Homo sapiens: one gene and its partner. The protein of the gene in region 2 purifies or fractionates together with the protein of the main gene of each other region. This does not show direct contact. Each region holds a gene or a part of one and is shown on either strand. Other genes may lie near its edges.

The links. Proteins that work in one complex are often made in the same cells at the same time.
Region 1: the proteins of CNBP (region 2) and EBNA1BP2 purify together in Homo sapiens (affinity purification with mass spectrometry; 3 studies listed by BioGRID and IntAct, with this or other methods). This does not show direct contact.

The regions. Positions count from the first base shown.
Region 1 is NC_000001.11:43,169,277-43,176,947, reverse strand, and holds the start of EBNA1BP2 (probable rRNA-processing protein EBP2), read left to right. Parts: upstream 1-4,668; 5' UTR 4,669-4,806; coding exon of another isoform or gene 4,807-4,829; coding exon 4,830-4,895; intron 4,896-4,978; coding exon 4,979-5,062; intron 5,063-5,235; exon of another isoform or gene 5,236-5,296; coding exon 5,297-5,469; intron 5,470-6,068; coding exon 6,069-6,192; intron 6,193-7,671. Other genes in the region: CFAP57 (cilia- and flagella-associated protein 57), read right to left, coding at 4,038-4,194. UniProt on the Homo sapiens protein: Required for the processing of the 27S pre-rRNA.
Region 2 is NC_000003.12:129,173,892-129,180,911, reverse strand, and holds part of CNBP (CCHC-type zinc finger nucleic acid binding protein), read left to right. Parts: intron 1-7,020. UniProt on the Homo sapiens protein: Single-stranded DNA-binding protein that preferentially binds to the sterol regulatory element (SRE) sequence 5'-GTGCGGTG-3', and thereby mediates transcriptional repression. Has a role as transactivator of the Myc promoter.

The DNA.
Region 1 (7,671 bases), on a different chromosome or scaffold from region 2:
CCTCCCAGCTATTCCTCCAACACAATAAGCACCCTCCTAACTCTGAGCCTTTGCTAGTCTCTCGGCTACTCCCCCTGCCCTCCCACATCAGCACAGCCAGCTCCTTCCTTTCCTTCAGTCTTCACTCAAAAATCACTGCTCAGTGAGCCCTCCCCAGCCTCCCTATCTACAACTTCTTACTCCCCCAACGGCTTCACTTTCCATGCTTTGTTTGTTCTTATTAGCATCTATCACTATCTAGCATGTAGACTGTACTTCTTTTTATTTTGTTTGTCACTCTCCCCTCTTAGAATGGAAGCACTGTGAGGACAGCATTTTATGTGCATATGTGCGTGTCTATTTTGTGCCTGGAACACAGGGGGTACTTAATACATTTTTGTTGAGTGAACAAATGAATATGTTGAGCCTCATCATGACTCTGAGCTGAACAAGCTGAGCATCATCTGCATCTTACAGATGAGGAGACTGAGGCTCTGTGAGCCTATAAAATGGGGAGCCAGATCAAAGCCAGGTCTCCCAATGTCATGACCTTTATATTTTTCCCTTCACCGGTAATACCCTTAGACTTGGTCAGTGGAGATCCTCCCTTGGGCCTCAAATTTTAGAGCATCCCGGAGTCTTTCTCTGGCTGTACCCCTTACCATTAAGTGGGATACAGTGGCTGCCTGGAGTTTGTCCTGCCTCTTCTAGATCACGTTGCAGGTACCCAGGACTCTGGAGTTCCCTGCTCAGATAGTCTTGAGCCTGCTGACAAGACCAACATTGGGGGTTTCTTCCCAGGCTGTCTCTACTCAACCTGGGCCTGAAGGATGGGCACAGGGTGGTTGCTTATAGAATATATGGGTAGAATTTGAACATATGGGCTGCAAGGATCCACCCACATGTGTACAAGGCCCCTGGTGATATAAGATGGAGTTAGGAGCAGAAGAGAAGTGATACAGTAAGAAGTGTAAGAATATGAGCACAATAACTGAAAGTAAAATCTCAATGGATACATTAAACATTAAGTTAGATGCAGCAGAAAAGAGAAGCAATGAACTACGAGATACATCTAAAGTAATTATCTAGAATGCAACACAGAGAGAGTAAGGTATAAAAAATCCAAATAAGAGTTCAAAAAAAAAAAAACCCAAAAACATGAACGTCAGGTGTGGTGGCTTGCACCTGTAATCCCAGCTACTTGGGAGGCTGAGGTGGGAGGATGAGTTGAGTTCAGGAGTTCAAGACCAGCCTCAGCAACATAGCCAGACCCCATCTCCATAAAAACAATTAGCTGGTCAAGGTGGTGCATGCCTGTATTCCCAGCTATTCAGGAGGTTAAGGTGGGGAGGATGGCTTGAGCCCAGGAGTTTGAGACTGCTGTGAGCTATGATTGTGCCAGTGCACTCCAGCCTGGGCAACAGAGTGAGACCTGGTTTCTTAAAAAATAAATAAATAAAATAAAATAAAATAAAAAACTGGAAGGATGGAGTTGAGATGGTTTGGAGTTCCAGAAGGAGATAACAGAACAAAAAAGATACCTGTCCTTAGATCCAGGAATCTCAAATAATCCCTAGGAGGATAAAAAATGAAAATAAAAACTATACTGATGTGTGTGTCTGTATCTATATGTATGTATATATACTATGTATATATACATGTACATATAGTATATGGTGTGTGTATATATGGTGTGTATTTTATACGTATATATGTATATGGTGTATGTGTATAGATACATACACACACACACCATAGACAGAGAAGATATTAAACATCCAGAAAAAAAGATCATCTACAGAAAGACGATGCTGATAGCTAATTTCTTAACCACAGCAACAAAAGAGAAGCCAAAAAAACACAATGGAATATGATCTATAATATGCTGATAAAAATTTCACACCTGTTGAAACTATCTTTCAGAAATGAGGATAAAATAAAGTCATTTTCAGACAAAAACTGGGAGAATTTATTAATACATTATCAGTAAATGCAGAAGGAAAATGATCCCAGCTGGAATATCTGATTTGTAAAGAGTAATGGTGGGAAAAAGTTTGGTAAGTATGAGAGCAAATATAAATTAATGTTGTCTGTAGAAAACCATAATTTAATTTATATTGGAAAGTCATATGATCTTTTTTATTTTTGTTTTTGAGACAGGGTCTGGCTTGGTTTCCCAGGCTGGAGTGCAGTGGTGCGATCTTGGCTCACCACAACCTCTGCCTCCCGGGTTCAAGCAATTCTCCTGCTTCAGCCTCCCGAGTAGCTGGGACTACAGGCACGTGCCACCACGCCCAGCTGATTTTTGTATTTTTAGTAGAGACGGGGTTTCACTATGTTGGCGAGGATGGTCTTGATCTCTTGACCTCGTGATCTGCCCACCTTGGCCTCCCAAAGTGCTGGAATTACAGGCATGAGCCACCACACCTGGCCAGATGTCCATTTTTATTGCCCCTAATCAACACTGTCTGGAGGTGCTTACCAGCACAGGTAACACAAGAAAAAGGAAGAAAGTCATCGTTATTTGTAGATAACATGATAGTCTATGTAGAAGTCTCTGCATAATCTATAGACAAATCATTAGAATTAATAATAATTTAGCAAATATGCTGGAAATAAACATCAATAAATTAAAGTCAACTGTATTTAATACAGCTTATTCCAACAGAATATTATGTGGTTGATAAATTTGACTTTATTAAAACTAATAATTTTTGTCCATCAAAAGATACTTGTAAGATGGGAGAAAAATGCCCCAAACTGAAAGAAATTATTTGCAAGACATATATATATATCTGACAAATTATTGATATACAGAATATATAAATTGTGCATGTAAATCAATAAAATTGCCCAAAAATATCCTGCACAACAAACTGTAAAAAACAAGTAAAAGACTTGAACAAGGCATTTAACATACGACTAAATAGGAATAGCCCATAAACAGATACTCATCATCATTAATGATAGCAAAATGCAAACGAAAACCACAATTCCTTTTCTCAACCATTGGGTTAGCAAAAAATTACGAAGTTGGACAATACCAAGGGTTGGCAGGGTTGCTGAGGAATAAGAACTCTTATGCACTTCTAGTGGGAGTGTAAATTGGTACTATCATATTGCTCAGTAATTTTAGTCCTGGCTGTGTGCCCTAGAGAATCTGCACAAATAGATGAATGTATATGCATGCAAGAATGTTTATAGTAGTATAGTTTGTAATAGCAAATGATTGTTATTTCCCAAATGTCCCTCAATATTAGAGTGAATACATATATTTGAGACATTATATTCATATGATGGAACACTACATAGCAATAAAATGAACTTGGCTATATGTATCGAGATGTGTGAATCTCAAAAGCATGACATTGAACTGATGCAGCAAGACACAGAATACAGGGAGAAGCACTAGAACTGGTAATATTCTGTTTCCTATGCTGGGTGGCTGGGTTCACAGATCTACATTCTATTGTAATTCTTTAAATATGACATATATGTAGGGTACATTCTTTTGTATGTATATGTCACAATAAAAGGTGTCAATGCAACAAAGAATGGGAAAATGGATTCGGTTGTTGAAATAATGAATATCATTAACAGGACCACTGTGAACAAAAATAAGGGCTGTAATGCTATACAAATGGTTATTTGCGACTTGGGATAAAGTTTACAGTGTCTTCATCATACTTGGATTCAAACGGTGATATAATGAAGGTGGTGTGCTCAGGAAAACTGTTAGACAACTCAAAAAGTGGCTCTGGTGATGACAAAGGCAGTGATATTGAAGACACCAAAAGAGGGGTTCTTAACATATTTTCATGAAATTACAGTGAAAAAAGTACTTTTAAATTAACATTTTATATGTGATTTTAACTACATATGCGTGACTGATTAATCTAGTTTCATAATACAAGTCGCCATTTATTTCCTCTACATTTATAATACTGCATATATATTCAAATTGGCCAAAATCTTTCTTTCCAATCATCATGCTGGGATTATGGGGTTATATGTGGCACATACCATTCCTGTATATGTCAGGATGGAAAAAGTTTTACCTGGAATGAATTTTTGCCATTTCTGATCCACATTGTACTTCACACAGTGATTTCCTGAAGGAAATATAATGATCTGTTCATCGAAGTAGAAGATATTGTTGGCCACGTGGGATCGAAGACCAAAAACATGCAGCGTCTGAGCTACCACGGCTGACATGATCTCCCGCCAAACAGTTCTGCTGAAGACCAAGGCAGCGCTTCAGAGTGGAGAGCACCGCCCCGCTCCGACCCCGCCCCCGGCCCGGACTCGCCCTCCCCGCCCTTTGCTCCTCCCCTTGTCTCTCCCCTTTCTCCTCCCCTTGTCCCTCCCCTTTCCCCTCCCCTTGTCCCTCCCCTTTCCCCTCCCCCGGGGTCCTCCTCCGCGCCACCCCACCCCCGCGGCTCCTTTTTCTGCCTTTTCCTTTGTACCCTCACTGCTACCAGCTCCTTCTGGCGACCCCCAGGTACCCCCTCCCACCTTTCGTTTCTCTCTGGGTCAGCAGACCACGCATGTATCCAGAGGCGCTACCTGTAGGGATCCTAAGCAACCCGGACACTTTCAAACGCCGTAGCGGTTCCTATAGCAACGACAAACCGGAAGTATGGTTTGCCGCCGGAAGCGGAAGTCCCAATCAAAAGTTGAGCAGTAGCTGTGAGTTGCTGGCGCTGGAGCGATTCGGTGGCACGTGGAGCCACGGCGTGGGAGTAGGGGGCTGAAGGCAGGCAGCAGCGGCCAGGGCCGCCCTCTGCTAGCCGCTTGGGTCTCGGGATACCCCGTTTCTTCCTGTAGGTGTGGGACGTGCGTGCGGCGAGATGGACACTCCCCCGCTCTCGGATTCGGAGTCGGAATCCGATGAATCCCTTGTCACAGACAGAGAGGTAGGTGTCAGCCGAGCTCGTGGGGCTGGGCGTGGGAGAGGGGGCCTTACACCCCTGGGAGTGACCGTGATTGTGTCCTGCAGTTGCAGGATGCGTTTTCCCGAGGGCTTCTGAAGCCAGGCCTCAATGTCGTGCTAGAGGGGCCGAAGAAGGCCGTGAACGACGTGGTGAGCGTGGGCACAGGGTCGGGGGTACTCGGACATGGGATGCGCTTCAGGCGCTGTTGGGCTTGGGAGACCGATTCTTGTCCCAGGAAAGATGCACCCTGCGCCTCGCCAAGAGGGTCAATTACCTGTCTGGGTATTGGGGATTAGCACTTTGTCCCTTCGCCTAACAGCCTGTGCTTGGGAAAGACAAACTCAGAGTTCCCTTCTTGTGAGCTCAGTGTCTGGATTTCCTAGAATGGCCTGAAGCAATGTTTGGCAGAATTCAAGCGGGATCTGGAATGGGTTGAAAGGCTCGATGTGACACTGGGTCCGGTACCGGAGATCGGTGGATCTGAGGCGCCAGCACCTCAGAACAAGGACCAGAAAGCTGTTGATCCAGAAGACGACTTCCAGCGAGAGATGAGTTTGTATGTTTGTTTTCAAATGTTGGAGAAGTTGAGGATCCTTGTGCAGGAGAGTGGGAAAGAGGGGAAATTAGTAAGTCTGCACTCAGAATAAGCCTAGGAGTAGAGAGAGCGGCTTCTTTTGACTAAGAATAGCTAGGAGATTCTTCCTGTTTGAGAGAAGAGCTCTTTGGTCCACGGTCACGATCCAAAATCCACTTTATGGGCTAATTTGAAATATTCATGTTAAAACTTTTTGTGCATGCTTCAGTTATTAGGAAAACAAACAAACAAACATTGCTTATGGGATGTTCTTGTGTGGAATTGCTTTAGTAATTACATAAGAATCCATAATCGACATTCGTTTGTGTTAATGGGTACCTTTAGAGTAGTCATTCTCTTAAACTATTTTTAGCAACACCCCTCCCCTTTTTAAAAACTAGTATACGGCTACATTTCTTTTAGATACTAAATCAGTGAGACAGTTTTTGTTTGTTTGTTCTTGCTAATGGAGGTCAGATTTTGAGAGTCCTTCTGAGCTTGGATAACTCATGATTGGCGGTGAAAAGGAACGTAAGGCCTCCTCCTTCACCTCATTACACATTTTGTCCTACGATTCTCAGCTATCGCCAAGCCCAGGCCGCAGTGCTTGCAGTCTTACCCCGCCTCCATCAGCTCAAAGTCCCTACGAAGCGACCCACTGATTATTTTGCGGAAATGGCCAAATCTGATCTGCAGATGCAGAAGGTAAGAAATAGAAGTTTTCCTCTGGAAAGTCAAAACTTTGTACTTAAGCATATTCAGCTGGCTTAGAAAGATAGCTATGAGCCCAATAACGGGGAGCCAGTTGTCAGAGGACAATTATTACCTCTTCCATAGATTGGCTACTTCAGAGTCATGCCAGTTACCACCAATTAGATGCATATAAAAATGACATTTTTTCTAAAATCAGCAATTAAGGAGAGGAACAGTGCTGTGTGAAGTGTGGTCCCCGAGGTGAAGATGGCCCAGTGCATTTCCTAGCTGGCATGGTCATGACATGGTGTGCAGAGAGGACAGCATTCTTGTGCCCTTGCCACTGTCAGTGCTAGAACTTGTAGACAATTACTTTTCTCTGGGCCTCAGTTTTCTCCTCTGTAAAATGAGGGATTCTTAGATGGTTCAGATATAGTACAATTTAGAGTTGGGTAGAACTTGGACCTCATTTAACTTTGGAAGAAGGGATTGCCAGCATGTAATCCAACATACATTCAGCCCTCCATAGCCATGGGTTCAGCATCTGTGGATTCAACCAACCTTGGATCAAAAATATTGGGGAAAAAAATTTGAAAATATTGCAAAAGGAAAACTGAATTTTCCGTGTGCCGAGAACTACATTGAATCCATGAGAATGAGGTGATGCATAGCATTGTATTCGGTATTATAAGTAATCTAGAGACTATTTAAAGAAGCGGTCTGGCACTAGAGACTAGTTTCGTGGATGACAATTTTTTCATGAACTTGGGGAGGGGATAGTTTTGGGATGAAACCGTTCCATCTCAGATCATCAGGCATTAGATTCTCATAAGGAGCAGGCAACCTAGATCCTTTGCATGCATAGTTCCATGCATAGTTCACAGTAGAGTTCGCACTCCTATGAGAATTTAACGCCACCACCAATCTGACAGGAGGTGGAGCTCAGGTGGTAATGCTTGCTTGCCTGTCACTCACTTTCTGCTGTGCGGCCTGGTTCCTAACAGGCCACAGATTCATAGTGGGTTCGTAGCGGTCTGTGGCCTGGGAGTTGAGGTCCTCTGACTTTAAAGGATACTGGAGGCGAGTGTAGGTTATATGCAAATGCTGCACCATTTTTATATAAAGGACTTGAGCATCTGTGGATTTTGATATCTGTAGTGGGTCCTAGAACTAATCCTCTATGGATACTGAGGGATAAGTATATTTAAATAGTACCCTGGGGTCTCAAGCTGGATTTTAGGGAGCTTTTGTCGTGGTAGTAGTTCACCTTCTTACTGTGAACTCTGTACAAATTCTCACTGACAACTTCTCATCCTTTAACTAAAATGTGTATGTTTGACTGAAAAGGCTAGGCACCTGGTATCTGCCTGGGTTTTTATTGTGTATGTGGTATACTAGAAAAGGACACTGAGGCCGCATACTGGTTTCCAGCCTCAGTCTACTGACAGTAGAAATGGGGAGAAGTTTGTCTTCTTTCCTGGGCTACAAATA
Region 2 (7,020 bases):
TATATGGGATAGTACCAAACTGGTGCCTAAAAGCAGTGAAACCACCATTGGACTAATTGGAATGATTTGTCTATTGGCTGAAGATTTGACCACAGAGAGATTCTGCTTTTTTTTCCTTGCAGGGATGAAAAATTAAAAAAAAAAAAAAAGATTGGTTCCTTTTTCTCTTCCTAGCCTCCTGACAGTAAGTAGAGAGCCAGAAGAATGATGCCAAGGCATCCTGGCCTGCTATGTGGAGAACGCTCTTTCCTTACTGTCTCACTTAATAGAACTCCTGTTCTGGCAGTGTCAGATGCTGCAGCAGCAAGGGAATGCCATTGAGTGATTGCAGTAAGCTATGCAGCATTTTCATGTTTAAAACTACTGAGATAATAAAGTGAGAACTTGAGGCCACCAAATTTTAAGTTGTAATTAGAAGGATTTTGTTAATTAGGAATATGAGAGTGCTACAGTGATCACCTGGAATGGCTCCATAAATACAAATGAGGTGTTAACTAGTGAAGCAAGTTGCCAGTGTTTGTGTGTTTGGTGAGACTCCTAAGTTCTGCCATGAAGTTAAAGAAAATATTTTTTAAGATTCAAGAAAGCTGTGTGAATGAATTCAAAATTATTATGACTGTAGATCTTTTAAAAAGCTATCAGTATTAGTTTTACTTTGATTTTTATCTAAAGAGAAATACAGAATGAATACTTACAGCATTACAATTCAAATGTGCGTGGCTTTTTTTTTTCTTAGTTACTAGATATATAGTAGTAATACCTTTATGTAATATTTTGAAGTAGAGATTGAATTGGTATAATTCCCTACCTTAAAAATATTACACAATAGCATTTTTGTCATATATTACGATAGCATTTTTGTGTACTTTACCACTTAACTTTTTTTTTCCTTTTCTTTTTTTTTTGGAGACAAAGTCTTGCTCTGTCGCCCAGGCGGGAGTGCAATGGCAGGATCTCAGCTCACTGCAACCTCTGCCTCCTGGGTTTAAGCCATTCTCCTGCCTCAGCCTCCTGAGTAGCTGGGACTATAGGCGTGTGCCACCACGCCCGGCTAATTTTTGTTTTTTTAGTTTTTTTTGGAGACGGAGTCTCGCTTTGTCACCCACACTGGAGTGCAAATGGCATGATCTCGGCTCACTGCAGCCTCCACCTCCTGGGTTCAAGCGATTCTCTTGCCTCATGCACCACCACGCCCAGTTAATTTTTGTATATTTAGTAGAGATGGGGTGTCACTATGTTGGCCAGGCTGCCGACCTCAAGTGATCTTCCCTCCTCAGCCTCCCAAAGTGCTGGGATTACAGGCATGAGCCACTGCCCCTGGCCAGTGTCAGATGTTTAGTTTGTCATTAAAATGGAGCAAGAATACATAACTCGTGAGGTTGTAAGATTATAGATATGTTTACTAATGACTGACTCATAGATATCCAGCTGTTAAAACTCTTCAAGAAGTAATCAGGGCAGGCGGAAATGGATGTAATTAACCAAGGTCAAGCAGTAAGTTCAGGAACCAGGATAAAAATACAGAATTGCTCCCGAGTAAGTACTCTGTTTTCCATTATTCTGGCTGGAATGCAGGTAATACAGAAAGTATATTGCTTCCTTTCATTGCTTTTTTTTTCTTCTTTTTTTCCTTTGAGGTGGAGTTTCGCTCTTGTTGCCCAGGCTGGAGTGCGATGGCATGATCTCGGCTCACCGCAACCTCTGCCTCCCGGGTTCAAGCGATTCTCCTGCCTCAGCCTCCTGAGTATTTGGAACTACAGGCACGGGCCACCACACCCGGCCAATTTTGTGTTTTTAGTAGAGACGGGATTTCTCCATGTTGGTCAGGCTGGTCCTGAGCTCCCGACCTTTGGTGATCCACCCACCTCTGCCTCCCAAAGTGCTGGGATTACAGGTGTGAGCCAGCACACCCGGCCCCCATAGTTCGTTTTTATTAAAAGAATCTGGGCCATCCTGGCTAACACGGTGAAACCCCCGTCTCTACTAAAAATACAAAAAAAAAGTAGCCAGGCGTCGTGGTGGGCACCTGTAGTCCCAGCTACTCGAGAGGTTGAGGCAGGAGAATGGGGTGAACCTGGGAGGTGGAGCTTGCAGTGAGCCGAGATCGTGCCACTGCACTCCAGCCTGGGCGAAGCAAGACTCCGTCTCAAAAAAAAAAAAAATCTGAAGTGTTTCAGTACCATGTTGGGACAGTAAACTGACTTAACGGAGCATAATAATGTGCATACTTACATACATTCAGAGGGCAAAAGCTCCAGTATGGTCTAAATGCAGTTAAGTGAACAACATGAATGAGTCAGGGATAACCCTGAGCTTGCGAAAAGTAAGCATATATACAAATGTGAATGTGTACAGCTGTGTTAGAAAACCATATAAAATAATAAAGATAGCCAGAATCATACCCTACTTTGCTAGTGTCATTTTTATCTCCAACTTGCCTGTTGCTACTTTATTTTAAATGTATTTTCTAGGACAGAGTTATGAACATTCTATTTATTAGAACCCTAGTTGTTAGTCTTGACCACATACTGTTAGATTTTAGTAGTTTACTATATTTGTTTTTAGTATCAATAGTATGGTACAAGTACTGACATTAAGGAAGACAAATTAGTATACTAACCATTTGTGGTTTCTTTAATTCCAAGATAAGTTCAAAATGTGTAAAATAGTTACACCTCTTAGTTTAGCATACATGGCTCCTCACAGTAAATCTTAAGTCTTGTCAGACCTTATTTTTTTTTTTTTTTTTTTTTGAGACAGAGTCTTGCTCTGTTGCCCAGGCTGGAGTGCAGTGGTGCGATCTTGGCTCACTGCAACCTCTGCCTCCTGGGTTCAAGCAATTCTTGTGCGTCAGCCTCCTGAGTAGCTGGGATTACAGGCATGCACCACCATGTCCAGCTAATTTTTGTATTTTTAGTAGAGACAGGGTTTCACCATGTTGGCTAGCTGGTCTCGAACTCCTGACCTCAGGTGATGCATCTGCCTCGGCCTCCCAAAATGCTGGGATTAGAGGTGTGGGCCACCCCGCCCGGCCCAGACCTTATCTTGACTATCTTAGTCATTTCTTCTCTTGCCTGACATGCCCTGTGCTCCTACCACCCTTTAAAGTGGTTTGTGTCATAAACATTTGATACACAAAAATGGAAACTTAGGACAAATATCTTGATGTCTGGTGGTTGAAAATGTGAACTGATTTGGAAATCACCGGTGTTTCTCCTCTTAATCTCTTCTCCATTCCATTCAGGAAATAGACTGTAAGGTGGGAAACAAGTATAAGCAGTTAGCCTCACTCTAAACCTGCTATGTAATAGACATTGGACTGAGTTCTGTCTACTCTCTGTAAGCAATCCAAGGTAATTGGCGAAAGTGGAAGGAATATGTACTCAGAAGACCAAAACTTTGGTTTTTAAATTGAATATCTATTAAGCACAAGGTAACAATTCTTACCACACACATCAGTTTTATTATTTCCCTTTTACAAATAAGACACAGATGGGTAGTCAGATGTCTTTGAGGTAACACAGCAAGTAGTTAAACTGGGTTAAGTGATTAACCCAGGTTGAGTATGGTTCCAAAATCTCTTACAGTGTCAGGCAGGCTACATCAGTGCAGTATACGTACATCAGGTTTCACGAAAAATTTTTTCCAGAGAAAACACAAACCCAAGGAACCTTCAGTAAGTGGTGCCTTATATTAGTGGTTTTTAGCAAAAGGAAGAAACTTAAGTGTTTTCCTGCTGCCTGACAAAAGTGAAAAACAGTATTTTGGTTTTTATTGAAGTTAGCATGTATGTTTGTAGCTTGCATAAAATAGTACTGAAATCCAATTGATTATGAATTCTTGGACTAACAGAACCTGGATGACAAATTAGAGGTTCTGGCCTGGTTGCTGGCTTTTTTAGTTGTCTTGGGTGTAAATTTCTCAGCCACACGTGGGGATTGTGTTAGATAATCTGAAATCTAATTTTCATGGTTTTATGATTCAGCAGCTTTCTTCCTTTGATATTTTCTAGTATTTGCTTTATTATAGATTGGAATCCTCAAAATAACATTGACAAGTAGAAGATACTTCTGTTAGTGGATTTAAAAAAAAATTACATTGGGAATGTCCTTTGAGTGGTTGGCCCTAATCCCTGTCAGAAGCTGAAAGTTGTGGATCCTAAATTCATCTGGGCAGAATCTCACCTATGATTTCAGAAAGCTGAGAGTTTCAGAGAGTGACTGTAGTCAGTCCTTAGTGAGTACAAAATTGAGAATACATCATTACTTTAAATTAATGGTGCAGTAACTCTTGTGACTGATAGCAATAATTTAGGTGCTTTGTTGTTAGTACTTGATTAGATTGGATTGGGTCAGTTAGTTTCACCAAATTGCTAAAGACACCTGTCCCCCTAGAATTAAAATACTGAGTTACATAATGGCTACTAAAAGGATAACTATATGGGGTGTTCGATGATTCAAAGGTGAATTACTTGGTCTCTACCTTCAAGGAATATGATACAAGGCAATATGGTACTGCCATTAGACAGATATTAACAAAGTGTCTTGGGACTTAATAGGGAGGGTAGTTCCAGGCTGGGAGATGTAGTCAGATTCTTTTATAGAGTTGGCATTTGAGTTGGCCCGTGAAGGTTGGAAAAAGTTGTGACAGGTGGAAAAGGAGCAGGGGAGACCAGGACAGTGCAGTGAAATTCCAGCCAGGAGCAGTCACAGGCAATGAGACAGACTCATGGAGCCATGATTCTCAGCTGTCTTACCTTACCTTAGTTTTCCTAAGGAATATCATGGAATTCTGTAAAGACCTTTAAACTAAATAATGTTCATATGAGATGAGTGCTAGGATGGGGACCTGCTGCCTAATATAAGTAGTGTGAGTCTAAAACATTGTGGAAAGTGGTTAGTTTAATAATGTTATTAAAGAGACAAGTCTATCACAAGGGACCAGTTACCAGTGAAACTGTAGACCACCTGATTCACTGCGATAGGGTTAGCCAAAGGGAGGAGAGGGCAGATTGCATACATAGTACCTAAGGCCACTCAAAGACCTCTTTTAAAATCACGTGTCATGTTGATGACATTTGGAGGCTATTAATGTTTTTCTTCCCTTTTAAGACTTAGTGTTTTCTTTATTAGCATTAATTTACTCTAGTAAACAAAATTATGTGTGACTAAAAATGGCAAAACAGGCTGGGCGCAGTGGCTCACGCCTGTAATCCTAACACTTTGGGAGGCCAAGGCGGGTGGATCACTAGGTCAGGAGATCGAGACCATCCTGGCCAACATGGTGAAACCCCGTCTCTACTAAAATACAAAAAATTACCTGGGCGTGGTGGTGCACGCCTGTAGTCCCAGCTATGTGGGAGGCTGAGGCAGGGGAATCGCTTGAACCCAGGAGGTGAAGGTTGCAGTGAGCCAAGATGGCGCCACCGCACTCCAGCCTGGTGACAGAGCGAGACTGTCTCAAAAAAAAAAAAAAAAAAGCAAAACATCTAAAACTTCTGTTATATTCTAGTGTGTAAAGTTCTGCCTTTGCCACTGAGATGCATATCTGTTTTACAGAATAGTTTTTTTTCTTTCTTTCTTTCTTTGAAGACGGAGTCTTGCTCTGTCACCCAGGTTGGAGTGTGGTGGCCCAGTCTCAGCTCACTGCAACCTCCACCTCCCGGGTTCAAGCGATTCTCCTGCCTCAGCCTCTCGAGTAGCTAGGACTACAGGCGCGTTACCACCACGCCTGGGTAATTTTTTTATTTTAGTAGATTTGGGGTTTCACCATGTTGGCCAGGATGGTCTTGATTTCCTGACCTCATGATCCGCCTGCCTCCCAAAGTGCTGAGATTACAGGCGTGAGCCACCACGCCTGCCCTAATTTTGTGTTTTTAGTAGAGATGGAGTTTCACTGTGTTGGTCAGGCTGATGTCCAACTCCTGACCTCAGGTGATCCTCCTGCCTTGGCGTCCCAAAGTGCTGGGATTACAGGTGTGAGCCACTGTGCCCATCCTTGTTTTGTATTTTCTAAAAGAGATGTATCTTGTTTAAATATTAAATTATAAGATATTCAGGCCTTGCAAATTGTCTGGATTACACTGTAAAAGTAATCATTTATGTGCAAATAATTCCTTGAGATCAATAGTTAAATGAGCTCAAGCTGATCTGACTAAATTGGAGAAGATACAAAATGAAGATGGGGAGGAAGTGGTGCCATAAGCAGCCTTTTTTCTTTGACCATTTTATATGCCTTTTTTTTTTTTTTTTTGAGATGGAGTTTCACTCTTGTAACCCACGTTGGAGTGCAATTGCTTGGCTTGCAACAACCTCCACCTCCCGGGTTCAAGAGATTATCCTGCCTCCGCCTCCTGAGTAGCTGGGATTATAGGCATGAGCCACCAAGCCTGGCTAATTTTGCATTTTTAGTAGAGACGGGGTTTCTCCTTCTTGGTGAGGCTGGTCTCGAACTCCCAACCTCAGGTGAACCATCCTCGTCGGCCTCCCAAAGTGCTGGGATTACAGGTGTGAGCCACCGTGCCCTGCCCGCCATTCGTTTTTTTTTTTTTTTTTTTTTTTTTAATTCTGACTCTTCTGTGGTGGAAACCAGCAAATACTTCACATAATTTAGGATGCTAATACTAGTACAGTTAAAAGAATGATTACAAAGCAGATACTATTTCAAATTCTGTAAAAATCTGTTTTTAATATCCTTCACTGGCTGTTTGTTCTGACTAGAAATGTTTTGTATATCTGAAAGCACCAGTAACTCATAGCCATATAATTTTTTTGGTAATATGTTCATAGGCAAGTGGCAAGAGTTAGTAGAAAGATTTCTCTAAGAATTTATCCTAAATCAGATTACACAGAGTTGGGGTAAGTGAGTATTGTGTTATTTTCTTTTGTATATTTGACAATGGGAACTTTTTGAAACTCAACTTCAGTGTAATTTTAAGTCACTAAATTTGTCCACAAGTTAATGATTAAACAGTTACTGAAAGTGGAGAACCTTGCCATTTTTCGGACTGCGTTTTGGGTC